2 linked regions of the Homo sapiens genome follow. The protein of the gene in region 2 interacts with the protein of the main gene of each other region in a pairwise test. Each region holds a gene or a part of one and is shown on either strand. Other genes may lie near its edges. The genes, in order: CEP126 and NUDT21.

Evidence for each region.
Region 1: the proteins of NUDT21 (region 2) and CEP126 interact in a two-hybrid assay, tested with the Homo sapiens proteins (2 studies listed by BioGRID and IntAct).

Annotation. Positions count from the first base shown.
Region 1 is NC_000011.10:101,959,170-101,967,792, reverse strand, and holds part of CEP126 (centrosomal protein of 126 kDa), read right to left. Parts: intron 6,053-8,623; coding exon 3,913-6,052; intron 1-3,912. UniProt on the Homo sapiens protein: Participates in cytokinesis. Necessary for microtubules and mitotic spindle organization. Involved in primary cilium formation.
Region 2 is NC_000016.10:56,448,333-56,455,162, forward strand, and holds the start of NUDT21 (cleavage and polyadenylation specificity factor subunit 5), read right to left. Parts: upstream 3,001-6,830; 5' UTR 2,871-3,000; coding exon 2,755-2,870; intron 1-2,754. Other genes in the region: prolyl 3-hydroxylase OGFOD1, read left to right, coding at 3,281-3,434, 4,931-5,076. UniProt on the Homo sapiens protein: Component of the cleavage factor Im (CFIm) complex that functions as an activator of the pre-mRNA 3'-end cleavage and polyadenylation processing required for the maturation of pre-mRNA into functional mRNAs.

The sequences.
Region 1 (8,623 bases), on a different chromosome or scaffold from region 2:
CCACAGATGTATCCATTAGCCATAATATTGTTTTACATATTTTAAATTTTTATATAAGTTTATTAATGTATTCTAACTACAACTTTTCCTCCCATTTTGGATATTTATTCCCATTGATGTAGGTTTGAGAAAAATGAGCAGTGAAAGTATCTGATGAGGAAAGGGAAGTAGGGAAATCAGATATTTGGGGAGGATGTTTGAAATAATTATTTCTAAGGAAAGACAGTGAATTTACGAGATAAACAGTAGGAATACTCAGTAATGTTGATCATCAGAAAATGTTTCATAAATCTACAGTATAGCCAATATGCCTGGCACATTGGTATGAATTTTCTCTGCTACTTAGAAGAAGGCAGAGAAAAAGCAAATAATTTTTTCCCCCTGGGCGGGGAAGGGCTGTTTGATTCTTGTGACAAAAAAGACCAAGAGGCAAAGAGTTTAGGATATTGGTAAAAGAACTATTGAAATGATGAACCTGGCCAGGCACGGTGGCTCATGCCTATAATCCTAGCACTTTGGGAGACTGAGTGGGAAGATGGCTTGAGCCCAGGAGTTCAAGACCAGCCTGGGTAACACAGGGAGACCCTGTCTCTATATAAAAAAATTAGTTGGGCATGGTGGTGTGTGCCTGTAGTGCCTGAAAGGTTGAGATGGGAGCATTGCTTGAGTCCAGGAGTCCCAGGCTGCACTGAGCCATGATCACGCCACTGCGCCCTAGCCTGGTCAACAAAGTGAGACCCCATCTCAAAAAAAAAAAAAAAAAAAAAGAAAGAAAGAGATGATGAATTGGAATGAGAAAGTAGAGAAAATACTGGACTAAAGAAGCCCAGTAGGGTAGAAGAATGGTAGGAGTAAGAGTAGGGAAAAGAGAGGAGAATGTGCTTAAGTAGAGGAGTGAGTGAGTTTGCTTACTACCTGGGTAATAGGATCCATACCCCAAACCTTAGCATCATGCAATATCCCCATGTAACAAACATCCACATGTACCCTCTATATCTAAAATAAAAGCTGAAATAAAGAAAAGAAGTAGAGGAGTTATGAATGTTGATGAGGTCCAGAATATAACAAAGGGAAAGGGTATTTGAGGCAGAATTGTATAGAAAGTTATTAGAGATGAAAAAGGAGTGAGAGGGATCAGGATGTTTGCTCATCCATATAAAAGCTGAACTATCCAATATGATGGCAAAGACTCTGTATGGAAATGAAGACTGTGAACCAAATATCAAAGTCATCTTTTAGGGGGGAAATAACTGGAGACATCAGGAGGTGGTATAGTCGAATGGCTTGGATCTAATTGGAAGAGTTTTTCCTAGAGAGTTATGCTAGAGTGTTCTGGAAATGCTAATTGAGAACAAGATGCTCTCCACAATCGTCAACTCTGGATGCATAAGGGTATAAAAATAAAATGAACTGCAAATAAGAGAGTAGGAAAAAAAATCCCACAAATGCTCACTGAACTGTAATCCAGTATTAACAAAGAGTTCACTTGAAGCATTTTATATTTAAACAGTTTTGGAAAAAAAAGCTTAAATGACTGAACATACAAAATATTCAGTATTGTTAGTACTGTTATATTTTCTAAGTATAATCGCTGTATTAATAGGTATAGATATTTACAACAGTGTGAATATTTAAGAACATTTAAGAATGTTAAAATTCATTACATTTTCCAATGTCCCTTATACGAATGTCCCAGAGAGAACTACCTCCTTTGACTAAATGTCAGGAAAATATTGGTTTCTCCAGATAAAATGTATCCCATTCCTTTATCAGAGAATCAGATAATTTTAATATGTTACCCTTTTGTACATAAGCTATTGGGAAACTATAAGTTTCCTAATATTTTTCCTAATTAGCAGAGTGTGATATATGATATTTGCTTTATCACTATATTTACTATATGATTTTAGTAGAAAAAGCACAGGACTTGGAACCATAGAGATCTGGATCAAAATACCAATTCTGCTATTTACTAGCTCTTGACCTTGGATAATTCTGCTTACTTCTTTGCAAAACAGTGTCTTAAAAATATTTATTTCTCAGCATTATTACAAGGTTTAAATGAGACAGTAAGTATAAAACAGTACTGTGACTGGTACAAGCTACAAACTCAAAAAGGGTAACTATCATTATTTATTTTAGAATATTTAATCTGTACGATACCTTCATTTTTTTGAAGTGTTGTGAAAGCTAAAGTTACATTCTGAAATGACTGGATAAAAAAATCATAATTTTAGTGAGAGAAACAATTTTTTAAAATCTAGATTTTTGTAGACAAGTAATGAAGATTTTTAGATTATAGTGTCTGCATTTAGCTTCCCTTCTGCTAATGTGGCTTCTATCCATTCAATTCAAGTAGAGTCTGGGTGATTACTAAGTGCCAGGCACTGTTAGGATCTGGGGATACTGTGATGAATTACACAAATGTCCCTTGGCCTTAAAAACTCATGGTTTAATTGAAGATGACTTTGAATATTAAATTTTAAACTCTCATTATATATCAATATTTATTCATACCTTTGGAAAAACAAGAGTTGTTTTTCTGATTGCCTCCAGACTCCAGTCCTAACTATTTCTCAATAGGCAACTGTTTCCTATTGGCAGGAAAATATATTGCTTTCTAGTTTATTCCTTCATAGAAGGAAAGAAGTTTTATGAGAGTCGACCAGCTAGTAAGGGCAATGGCATTCTATAGAGAATTAATTTTCAAAAATATTTCAAGACAATGATATCATTTTTTTGCTCTCACAAAAACCAATAGTCATAGCAGATAAAAGCAGAGCTACCACACTTTGGGAAAGAGAATGGGAGAATTAGGTATATCTAATTAATATTAGTTTATAGCAACTCAATTTAACAAAAGTTTTAAAGAAAAATAAATATAACTACATGTATTCACTTGTTTATAATAATTTAAACAATATTTTTCACTGTGCTTACTTTGTTGGAAAATTTGACTACAATAGTAATGACAGAATAATATGGGACAAGAATCAGATCCTATTCCTTGTCCTTCCTCTTAAACTAACAGGAAAAGTCATGGAAAAAAATGGAGGCTGGCAAAAGTTTCTAATTTCAGTTGAGCACTGGTTGGGTCATTCTCTTAAAAGGATTCAGCTACTAACGTCACAATGTTGTTGTTGTTTTTTTTTTTTAGATAGAGTCTGGCTCTGTTGCCCAGGCTGGAGTGCAGTGGTGCACCACCTTGGCTCACTGAAACCTCCTCCTCCTGGGCTCTGGGTTCAAGCAATTCTCCTGCCTCCTCCCAGGCAGCAGGGATTACAGGCACGCGCCACCATGCCCGGCTAATTTTTGTATTTTTGTAGAGACAGGGTTTCGTCACGTTGGCCAGGCTGGTCTCGAACTTCCAACTTCAAGTAAATCCGCGTGCCTTGGCCTCCCAAAGTGCTGGGATTACAGCCATGAGCCACCGTGCCTGGCCAAAAATCACAATATTACAGGAGGTAAGTTACTTCTTTCTTTTTTTTTTTCAGACAGAGTCTTGCTCTGTCATCAGGCTGGAGTGCAGTGACATGATCTCGGCTCACTGCAACCTCTACCTCCCAGGTTCAAGCAATTCTTCTTCCTTAGCCTCCCGAGTAGCTGGGACTATAGGCACGCACCACCATGCCGGGCTAACTTTTCTATTAGTAGAGATGGGATTTCGCTATGTTAGCCAGGCTGGTCTTGAACTCCTGGCCTCAAGTGATCCGCCCGCCTGGGCCTCCCAAAGTGCTGGGATTACAGGTGTAAGCCACTGTGCTTGGCCTGGAGGTAAGTTATTTCTATAAAGCTATTGTTTAATATTAATATTTATGTAGTATGTATGGCCATACATAAATAGGAACAATTTCACATGACTTTAACAAAGGTGTACATTTTATCTATAAAAAGCTATAAATTTATTCTTACCTGTAGCCCTCTTATTTTGATGCAGGACATTAGGACCTCTTTTCCATAAGGGAACTGATTCTTCTTCAGCAGTTCTTAGAGTCACAGACGGATAACTTTCTTCACAAACAGGACTTCTTTGGGTGCAATATAATGTCGCATCTTGCCGGGCAACTGCTTGAGTGCCATTTGAATGATTTATTTTTGCGAAAGTTTGGCACTCTGAAGAACAATATGATGGCAGTGATGGTATCACAGTGACTAGGTCAGAACAAGCATTTGAGAGTGGAGAACTACTTTCCTGATTCCACTGATTCAAACTGTGTTCTGTTGGAAGCACATGTTTTGAATTAAAAGAGTTATGTGTAATAATGTTTTGAGGATTTTCAGGAGTTACTGGTTGACACTGAGACACTTGTATATTTTTACCACTTCTAATATTTGATGTAGATTGAGGAGGAGGACAAGGTATAATTAATTTTCCCTGAGCTTGTGTAAATATGTTGACTTTGCTTGCAGACTGTGGTTGAATGACAGCGCCTTTTCTGTTTGTACATATAAAGCCTGATTGGACTTTTGCAGATCCTGGTTTTCTAATTATTTTTGCTCTACCTCTTTGTGGCTTACCTTGCTTAGTTTTAGAATCATCATGTACAGGGATTTTACTTTCTTCTTTTTTTGAGGCTGGCCAGGCATGTTTAGCAAAGTTATAACCTGAAGGTATAAAACAGTTCAAAGGCATATGGTCTGCTCCAGATCCTCCTAAAGTCGTAACATTTTCAGAGATAGAATCCTCCCTGGACTTCTTTGTATCAGCAGAATTTACAGCACAAGTAGAAACACTAATTATGTTGCTTCCAGCACCACTTTGAATGTGGAATTGTTGAGAATGCTGTTGAGTTGTTCCTGTTTTATTCTTCAGTGAATGACTGTTTTCAGCATTGTTTTCTATATTGCTAGTTTCATCAAACCACCTCAGTTTTTTAATGGTCTTTGGAATTTCTGCACCTTTTTCCTTTGTTAATTCAATACTATCTCTGATAGCTGCTGCTTTTTGATTTCCAAACTTAAAGCTCTGATTTATAATTAATGCCTTAAGATAACCATGTTCATATTTAGATTCTTTCTTTAAAATACTTTTAAGAAATCTCACACCATTTCTCTCATGGATGTTGTATTTCATTTTCTTATGCTGGCCAACAAAGTCATAATTAGAAGTTACATTAGACAAGGATGATGTTTCAGCTAATTTTTGTTTTTCATCTTTTGAATCAGGATTGTGAGGTATATAGGCATCTTGAAAACTGTCTGAAAATAAAGGCAACTCTTCCTTATTGCAATTAAAATATTTTATCTCTTCTTCTTTACCATCTTTCAATTCATCTAACTTATCAGAACACTGCACTGCATCAATTTCTTTTATGTGTATACTGTTCTTTGCTGAAGGTCTAGCTGACTGTATATTAGATGGCAAAACTAAAGGCGTTGCCACTGGTACACATGAAGTAGGAATTGAAGTAGTTCCATTTTCTTGATTTAATTCAGAATATTTCTCTTGGTCTGGAAATGTAGCCACTTCCTGGGTTAGAGAATCTGAAGTGCTTTGGGATTTGCTAAATTTAAATGTTGGGCTCTCAGTAACTAATGGTCTCTCTCTTTTGAATGCTCCAGAAGTGGAGTCAGTTGTCCTCATAGTGCTAGTTTCAGAGGTCTTTTCACATTTTTTATCTAGTACAAACATGGGTGGGCTAGATACAAAGGGTACTGAATTATTAGCAGTATTTGTGGCTCTTTCCACTGTTCCATTCAAAGGAGATGGATTTTGTTCTTTACTATTAAAATATTCCCATGAAGGCAGAACATTAGATTTACTTAAAATATCTGAGAAAGCTGTGACATTCTGAGTATTTGAAGCATCTAAATTTGTAAGCCAATTATTTATATGTTGAGTTTTAGAGAATGCCAGTTTATCTTCATCAAAGCAGCTGAGATTAGTTGATTGCATATTTGCTGGTTTGAGGGAAATGGTATTCCGCTGGATGGATGTGGAATGCTCCTTATTAAGTGTTAAATATATTTCTTCATGCTCTGTAGCCTCAAGACTGTCTATACTTGAGAGGGTTTCAGAATTGGTTATCTGATTAACTTCATCACAAAATTTCTGGAAAAAAAAAGAACATTGTTTTATAGCTTATAAACTTTTAAATGCCAAGATTAACGATTCAACATACCATTGTTACTGAGCCCAATTCTCCTTGCATATAGAGTAGTATGACTATAAACATCATAGGTATATAAATAATTCTTATCCCTGCAGCAATCCTCAAGGTAAAAAATTGGGAGGTAACAAAGACTTATAGTATAGTATGCTTGCTTTGATTTCAACTCCTAAAGTAATACCTGCTTATTCTAGCCACAGTTAGAACTTAAAAAAAATTTTTGTTATTGCTATTCCATTTAGAGTATGAAGTTTCTTGAAGGCTTAGTAATAGAAAGTGAGATTCTGAAAAATAATTATTTATAAATTGTATTTTTTTCCTAAAACATTCACTGGACTTGAATGAGGCTCCTAAAAGCTCTGTGATCCTAATGTGAGTTTCCTGTTAGTAGGGGCTACATCTTTTTATAAAACTTAATTTTGTGGACTGTAGTAAGGCTGTTAACTCTGGCTACATGTTAAAATCACATAAAGAACTGTGTAAAATATCTATACCTGGGTCCTGCTGATTTAATACTTGGATGGGGTCCATATACTGGTATTATTTAAATTCCCCAGGTAATTTTCATATGGGTTTAGGCTCAAAAACTATTGACTTTAATGACTCCTTTTGGAGGTTTAGCATAGTAGTAATTTCCATAAATTCCATAGACATTTACATCACTATTTCACTGAAATTTACATGAAATTTGTCAGTCTTTAATAATATTTCAAAATTACTTCAATGTATGGTAAATGTTTAAAAATATTTCTGTTTTCTCACACATACCTAGCATGCATTAATCTACATCACATATATAGAAATAAATTTTAAGAAGACATTAAATTGTATATCTAGTCAAAATGCTGAATGGAAAGAAAATTGATATCCCTTAAGATTTATCATACATTTTAGATTTATCTAAAATATGTAAATTTTAAAAATTTACATACTATGGTATTAGACAAAAGTACTTTCTTTTTCTATCCCAGTAAGTAAACTAAGAAATAAAGTAAATAAATTACAGAATAAAAATATTTTAATTTATATAGTTAGTTCTTATTGATTTAGTATTGTGGAATAAGTTTTAAAAATTATTCATGAGAGTTTTATATTTTTAGCATTTAGTCCCTATTTATCACATCCTTTGGCATACTTCTTAAAGTGATAATCACTCAACCCAAACAGGGAACAAAACAAAGCATAGCTACTTCAATGCCTGTTCTTGGAAATAAGTTGTTTTAACTGATAATGATGATGAAATCAGGCCTGGAAGGCATCCTTTGAGGTTACATCTAGTGAGACACAGAAATTTGCGTTAGAAGATCCTTCTAGATATAAGTATGACATCCATGGCTCTAAGATTTCCATTTGCATAGGTCTGTAATTGCTTCATCTCCCAAATCACCTCAGAAGAAGTTTGGCAACTTCTGATTTCATAAACAATACTTTTTTTTTCTTCAGATTTTTTCCCACCACTAAATAATGAAACATTATGATCAATTTCAAGTTTTGCTTATAAGTTACATTTAGCGGTCCGTCTTATCTTTATTGCCCTGCATGTAACATATCTTTTTTCCCTCTGGCTTTAATCTGATTTTTAGGTGCCTTTCTGTGGTATGTGTGTGTGCATACACTTATCCTTCTTGGAGTTTGTTGGGCTTCTTGAGTCTGTGGATTTATAATTTTCATCAAATTTGAAACATTTCCAGCGATGGTTTCTTTAAACATTTCCATTCCTACTTTGTGAAATTTTATTTAAATTTTATTTTTAATTAAATGTGTTGATGGCTTTATATGGTCTCACAGGTCACTAACAAACTGTTCATTTTTTTCCAGCCTTTTTCTCCCAAAGCTTCAGCTTGGATAATTTCTATTGCTATGTTTTCAAGTCCACTAATCTTTTGTTCTGCAATGACTGCAATGTTAAGTCCATCCAGTCAATTTTTCATTTCTGATAGTATGTTTTTCAGAACTAGAAGGTCTGTTTATTTCTTTTTTCAATTGTCTTTCTTATGTACATTTTTACTTTAATTCCTTGAAAATATTTGTAAAAATACGTTAAAATTCCTTGTTGGTTAATTCCATCATCTCTGTTATTTCTGTCTGATTATATTGACTACTCTTCTCCTGGTTATGCGTCATATATTCCTGATTCTTCACATGTCTAGTAAGTTTTGATTGAATGCTGACATTGTGAGCATTATGTTATTGAGTATTTAGATTTCATAGTCTTCTTTAAGAAAGTGTTGGCCAGGCATGGTGGCTCATGCCTGTAATCCCAGCATTTTGGGAGGCTGAGGCGGGCGGATCATGGGGTCAAGAGATGGAGACCATCTGGCCAACATGGTAAAACCTCGTCTCTACTAAAAGTACAAAAATTAGCTGGGCGTGGTGGCGGGCACCTGTAGTCCCAGCTACTCGGGAGGTGAGGCAGGAGAACTGCTTGAACCTGGGAGGCGGAGGTTGCAGTGAGCCGAGATTGCACCACTGTACTCCAGCCTGGTGACAGAGTGAGACTCCATCTCAAAAAA
Region 2 (6,830 bases):
TTAATGTCCCCCTGCATTCCACTGACTACTAATCTAATCAGAAAGTTTTAATTATGGGTGCTAATGGCTAATTTCTTTTTCCTAAAACTAAGCCACCGTTTTTCATCAACATCCCTCCAGTTATTTTCTATTTCTCTCAGTCAACTATCCTCAGATTTTTCTTGCACCACAGCCTTTCCTTTTCACAGCAACTCTTCTACTTTCTCTTTTTGTCCTCTAAACCTATTTACTAGCCTTTGGCATTTATTCTATTCAGTCTCCTTATTGTTTCCTTCTCCTCATCTGAATCTTCTACCCACCATATCTAATCGAAAACTCTCTTCCTTTACCAATAATTTAAAATATGGCTCAAACTGTTAAAGACAGTTTTCATCTTGCCTAATAAGGATCAAATTTTTCTTTAAAGATAGTTAAAAAATCCATACTTATATGTTGTAAGCCCTTAATTAAAGCCTTACAGCAAGAAGCCTTTGAGTACGAATTTAGGCCACATTTGCCCATCCAAGGTATCTATTCTACCAAAAGCCCTTGACATTAATAGTCAACATTATTGTATCTACCCCACTCAGCCATTCTTGAAAGGGGAAAAAATCAAGGTTGCCAAAACTTTAAAAATTACTTTAATTCCAGAAGCCAAGTTCTAGGCATATGAAAAAGCTCTAAAATAATTAAAATATACCATTCCAGGATGCTTTAAAAATTTAAAGAACATCCCCGGTAGATCCAATGCTAAATCTAAAACCATCATCCATAGCAGCAGCAGATATGCTACATAGAACGACGTGCCAAGCAATTTTTTAAAACGCTTTACATATATTAACATTTAATTCTGACAACCTGAGTTAGAAAGAATTAAGGATAGCCATTACACATCTCTGTTGCAAGAGCCAGCTCCAATATATCAGTAAGGAGATGTGAAGATGAAATGTCAGAATTTTCACCTGTGAAATCAGAGTGCCAGCCCAGACATACATATTGTTCTCATCATACTGTGAGCTTCATAAAGCAGGGGCTACACCTTACTTCCTCACCACTGTATATCCAGTATTGTGCACAGTGCCTGGTACAAAGTAGGCATTCATGCAATATTTCCTAAAATAAAATATACTGGGGGAGAGGGCATTTGTTTTCAACTTAATGTTAACTCAGGTGAACTTAAGTTCACAACACAATTATTATTTCTGAATATTTGTATTTACACAGGAGAGGAAATGTACTGTAAATCAACCCATAATTTTAATAGAGCGAAGATTAAAATATCTTACTGAAAGCTAACTATTTTGCCAATTCTACAAAATGGTTGGATGCAAATTAATTCAGTAATCAAGACAAAACAAGAAAAGACTGTGGGTTTTAGTTCTAATAACCACCGAAAGTAATCCAGAAGCTGTGCTTTCACACTTTTAAAAAGGATAACATTTGCCTTTACCATTTGATGGATTTTTTCTTAATTTTTAAAAAAATTTTTGTAGAGACAGCCTATGTTGCCCAGACTGATCTCCAACTCCTGGCCTCAAGTGATCCTCCCACCTCAGCCTCCCAAGGTGCTGGGAGTACAGTCGTGAGCCGCCACTCCTGAGAACTTTTATACACACAACTATCAACTAATTCCAGATTTTATAAACCCAGCATTTCCATTATCTAAATTTCCAAGCCAACACGTTTTGCAAAATAAAACAATGTTAACCATCTTTTCAACTTCAAATCACTTTTGGTTGGGGGACGGGGAGACAATGTCCGTTTATTTTAATATGAAACAGAGAAACACCTAAACTGCCTTACGAAAACATCAATACCACCAAATCCTTGCACTTGTACCCTGACTGGCATAAACTGGCCACTTTCCTCCATCCTGGCATAAAATGGAGGCACCGCGTTGCCTCGAAAACAAATCCTCAGAAACGATTTTAAAAAGCATTACTGACAATTTCTTGATTAAGACACCCCAAACGCCAATTACCTGCTACAGCGAGTCTGCTTCTGAGAATGACCTTGAAATGCAATGGTTTGAAGTGTTGAAACAGAAAGGTGTTGAAAATAAAACACAGCCCACAATGGGTTTTCTGGTACAAACATTCTGGTTCCCTCCAGTCTGAAAGCCCAACCATAGCAGCATCCTTACTCCCAAGGAGGGGCCTACTTGTGGTGCCTGGGATGCCGGCATTGAGACATCAGACGACGCGAAGGCATAAGGCATGGGGCAGGGCAGACAGCCCTGAGCACATGAATAAAATGTGTTGTATTCAAAAACTGAAGTATTAAGTGGCACCTAAAAGGAAGAAAACTAGACCTAGGCATTACAGCTAGATCTCGAAACCTTACTGTCAGAGTGAAATCTGCAAAAATGATACTAGGTTATACCATTCGTATCACATCAACACTCACAAAGCAATACCATGTACGTGATGCGAAAGCATAAACAATTCACTGGAAGGATTAAAAAAACACACATTTTGAAGTCGGTTACCTCTGGAGAGGTGGGGAAAGGATGAGTTAAAAGCAAACTCCGTTTTTCCCCATTATGACCGAATACATAGGATGGGAACAAGCCTTCCTTTCAGAAAAGGACTCTAACCCTGGAGGCTGGAGGATGAGAAAGGGGCCTGAGAGAGGGAGGAAGGCGCGCATCCGCCAGCGGGAGTTGGAGGCGGGGAGGTGCAGAGGCGTGAAGCGCGCCGAAAAGCCGGGGGCGCGTCGGAGAGTCTATAGGAGCTTTCACGAGAGAAATGCCCGCCAAGGCCGCGCCGCACTTACAGGTTGATGGTGCGCTCCAGGGTGAGGGGCTTCGTCTGCTGGATGTACTTGTTGCCGAACTGAGTGACCCCCCGGGGCCAGCCGGTCTGCGAGCGATTGGGCGGTACCACAGACATGCTGGCGAGCTCCGGCGCTGACGGCGAGCAGAAAGTGGCAGGCAGGGTAGACTTTCCCCGTGCGGGAAGCGGTTATCTGCAATCCCCTCAGCGGCTACTGCCCGCCATTAACAGGACAGCGCAAGAGGAGGCGTAGGCACGCCGGAAGTGAACCCGGAGCCTCTGGCGGCAGGAAGTAGAGGGGCGGTGGCCTGCCAGACCGAGCTCCAGTGGGCCAATTGCTGGTGGGATGGCTGCAATAGCTGGAGCTCCCATTGGTAAACCGGGTATAGGTTCCGCCTTCTCTTACTTTGGTGCTTCCCATTGGGTAGGGCCGGGAAACACGATAAAGGGGACATGCCGGGAGTTGCAGTACCCTCAGGAAGGTAGCGTCTTGATCTGCGTGGCGTGGTTCTGTGCCTTGGGAAGAGATGAATGGGAAGCGGCCAGCGGAGCCCGGCCCAGCCCGGGTGGGAAAAAAGGGAAAGAAGGAGGTGATGGCGGAGTTTTCGGACGCTGTTACGGAAGAAACCTTGAAAAAGCAGGTGGCTGAGGCCTGGAGCCGCAGGACGCCGTTCAGTCACGGTAACCGGGTGCTCTCAGGGAGGGGCCGCCACGCAGAGGTCTAGGGATCTCTGAAAAAGCCCTGGGACTCGCGCCCAGCCTTGGGCAGCGGGGCCGCAAGGGAAGAGGCTCTTAGAGGACTTTGGCCACCTCCTACTCTCCTGCCTCGGCTGCTGCTCCCTTTCACTCCAAATTCGGTTGCAATTTAGAAACGTGAGAAGAGGGAGAAATGGAGGCCGGAGAGTTTTGGGAAGCAGAGGGTATGCAAGAGATAGTTGCATTCTGGAGTCAAAGATTACTGAGTTAGAATCCTCTCCCCTGATTGGGCGTCGCCAGGCAATGGAATTAACCTTATTAAACTTCAGTTGCTTCCTAAGTAAAATGGGATAGTTCATAATATTTACCTCGGAAAGTCGGTGAATGGGAGCGACACACTAATGCTTGCAGGCTTCAGTAAATGTTTCCCTGAGTAAGGCCCAATACACATGTGGACAAATACAGGAGTGGCTGATGTCATTTCTCCTGCAAGGGCATTGCTCAGCTGTCCCAGGAGAGTCTAGCCAGGGCATTTGTCGTGAGCTGCCAGCTTGACTCCCTAGTGTACTCGTCTCTACGCGCCTGTAGTTTGACTCCATGATGTATGAAAATAAACGCGCTTTGACCAAGGAAAGGCGCCTACGTTGAACGATTCCAGCCTCAGCTTTAAATATCACCTTAGGTGTTCAGAGCTCTGCTTCATGCGCCAGGCATCCCCTTCTAGAGTTTGCCGTAATTTTTCTTTCCGTTGTCAAGTGCTTTGAAGAGGTGAGTCCTGGGTAGGCTGGATGCCTATAGAAAACGATAGCTTAGTGTTTAAGTGCAGGCTCTGTACTCTCAGTTTCTTCATCTGTAGAATGGGGAGAGTGATAATGTCTCCCTCAGAGCTGTTAAAAAGATTGAATGAGATCATGGGCCTGGCACCTGGTAGGTGGTGCTGATGATTACAGGATGGTGATCTAGCCAGCCGGAAGCAGTGGGTAAATGTTGGGGTAGAAATCAAGGAATTAGAGGTGGTTATGCCCGAACTGAACTGATTTTTTTTTTAAGTACAGTAAGTAGTAAATGCCTCTGACAGTAACTTGGGAAAAGCAAAAGCAGGGAAACTGCCGACCAGTATTGCTACTCTCATTTAATGTGCTACCCAAAGTTTGAGGGAAATGAATTAAAAATCTAAAATACATTCAATTCAATATGTAATCATTGAAACACATAAAAAAAAGAGTAGGAACCTTGATTTAGTGACATCACCCATCACTCATCTCAAGGACTGGAGTTGTAAGCATGGTATCTTTAAAAGTAGTATTTAATGGGTAAAGAAGAAAGGTCAGAGCTTATCATTTTTTCCCCAAATCTTAGACTTTAAGTATTAGGTTCCCCAAAATTCATGACCATCCCCTTTTGTATTAGCTCTGCTATGTTACTTGGATGTCAAAAATACAAAAGGAAAAAAGCCATAGATAATGTTTTTCTTCCAACAGAAGTCATTGTCATGGACATGGACCCTTTTCTTCACTGTGTGATCCCAAACTTCATCCAAAGCCAAGACTTCTTAGAAGGGCTTCAGAAGGAACTGATGAACTTGGACTTCCATGAGAAGTATAATGATTTATATAAGTTCCAGCAGGTATTTATTCCCCTGCCACATTAACTCTTCCAGCTTGGAAATTCACTGTCTATGAAGTCATTGAATACCTTTAGACTTGAGGTTTTAGGGTGGGTTTGCCTTGAACAGTCCTTGCATTGACATTCTTAAGAGCATGCCTTCATTTAACCAAGCTTACTGAGTGTTAACTATGTGTTAAGTGCTATAATTATATGGAAGCCTTAGACAGTGCCTGCCCTGTAAGACTTTAAAATCTAGTGTTCAAAGTGCAAGCTCTGTACTCTCAAAGACTTCTCAGTTTCTTCATCTGCAGGATGGAGAGAGTGATAATGTCTTCCCTAGGTACACAGGTTTCTATGGGTCTCATGGCTTTACCTCCTCTTGGATGTCTAGTAAGTGTCTGACACTTAAGTCTAAAACTGAATTCTTGGTCTTCTCTAAATTTGCTCCACCTGTAGTTTTCCCCATCACAGTTAATAGCAACGTGATCTTTCCAGTTGCTCAGGCCAGAAGTAATAATAAGGGTGAATGTGACGGTGATAGAGATAGTGAAGAAACAAATTAAGCCGATGAGTAAGTATGTTATAAACAAAGGGGTTAAGTACATGTGGGTAAGTGGTATGATGATGAAGAGAGTTGTACGTTGGGAGACAATTACCATTTAAAATCTTGAGTTCGGGCCAGGTGTGGTGGCTCATGCCTGTAATCGCAGAACTTTGGGAGGCCAAGGCGGGTAGATCGCCTGAGGTCAGGAGTTCGAGACCAGCCTGGCCAACATGGTGAAAACCCGTCTCTACTAAAAATATAAAAATTTTCTGGGTATGGTGGCATGTACCTGTAATCCCAGCTACTTGGGAGGCTGAGGCAGGAGAATCACTTGAACCCAGGAGGTGGAGGTTGCAGTGAGCCAAGATCACATCATTGCACTCCAACCTGGGCCACAAGAGCAAAATACCATCTCAAAATAAAATAGAGTTTTGAGTTCATGTTTTTGTTTCAGGTGACTTGCTATATTACAGTATGCTCTACATTGCAGTAGGGCAAAGCGTTAAATCCGTTCTTTTTTTTTTTGGTGGACAGTTTAATTGGGCAGAAAAGACTATCTCTTTTTTTTTTTTTTTAAGTTTGGTTTTTCTACTCTGGAAGACACAGCCTAGTCTAGGTATAGAAATACAGGTCATTGGTTTCCCCAGTTTGGGGGTATATCTTTCAGTACATGAATCCTTTGTAAACCTCAGGGACATCTGTGCTTCAAATTGGGGGGGGAAAAAAAAAAGAAAGATTAAAAAGATGAAGAATAATTTTTTTTTTTGCATTTTCCCATTTTATTTTATCTGGGATAAGAGAGTAAATAACGAATTTCTCTCTCTTATTCTTTTACACTAGAGCTGATTGGTCAGATGGTTGTATCCTGACCTTCCCCAGATCTTTCTGTCTTTGGACCTTATACACATGACTGAATTAACCAGGATAAATACATGAAAGATATGACTCTTAATAATTCAGAAAGCTGAAAACTAAACTGCTTTCCATGGTAAGGTTGCACAGGTTAATTAAAAACCGCAGTTACCTGCTGTTGTGATTATCGCACCCTTGGCCTCTTGTTGATTTGGGGCCATACGCATCTGATTATTAAAATTGAAACATCACAATAATTTTTACTTCATGCAATTTGGAAGATTAAAAATACTGGAAGATGGCCGGGCACAGTGGCTCATGCCTGTAATCCCAGCACTTTGGGAGGCTGAGGCGGGCAGATCACAAGGTCAGGAGAT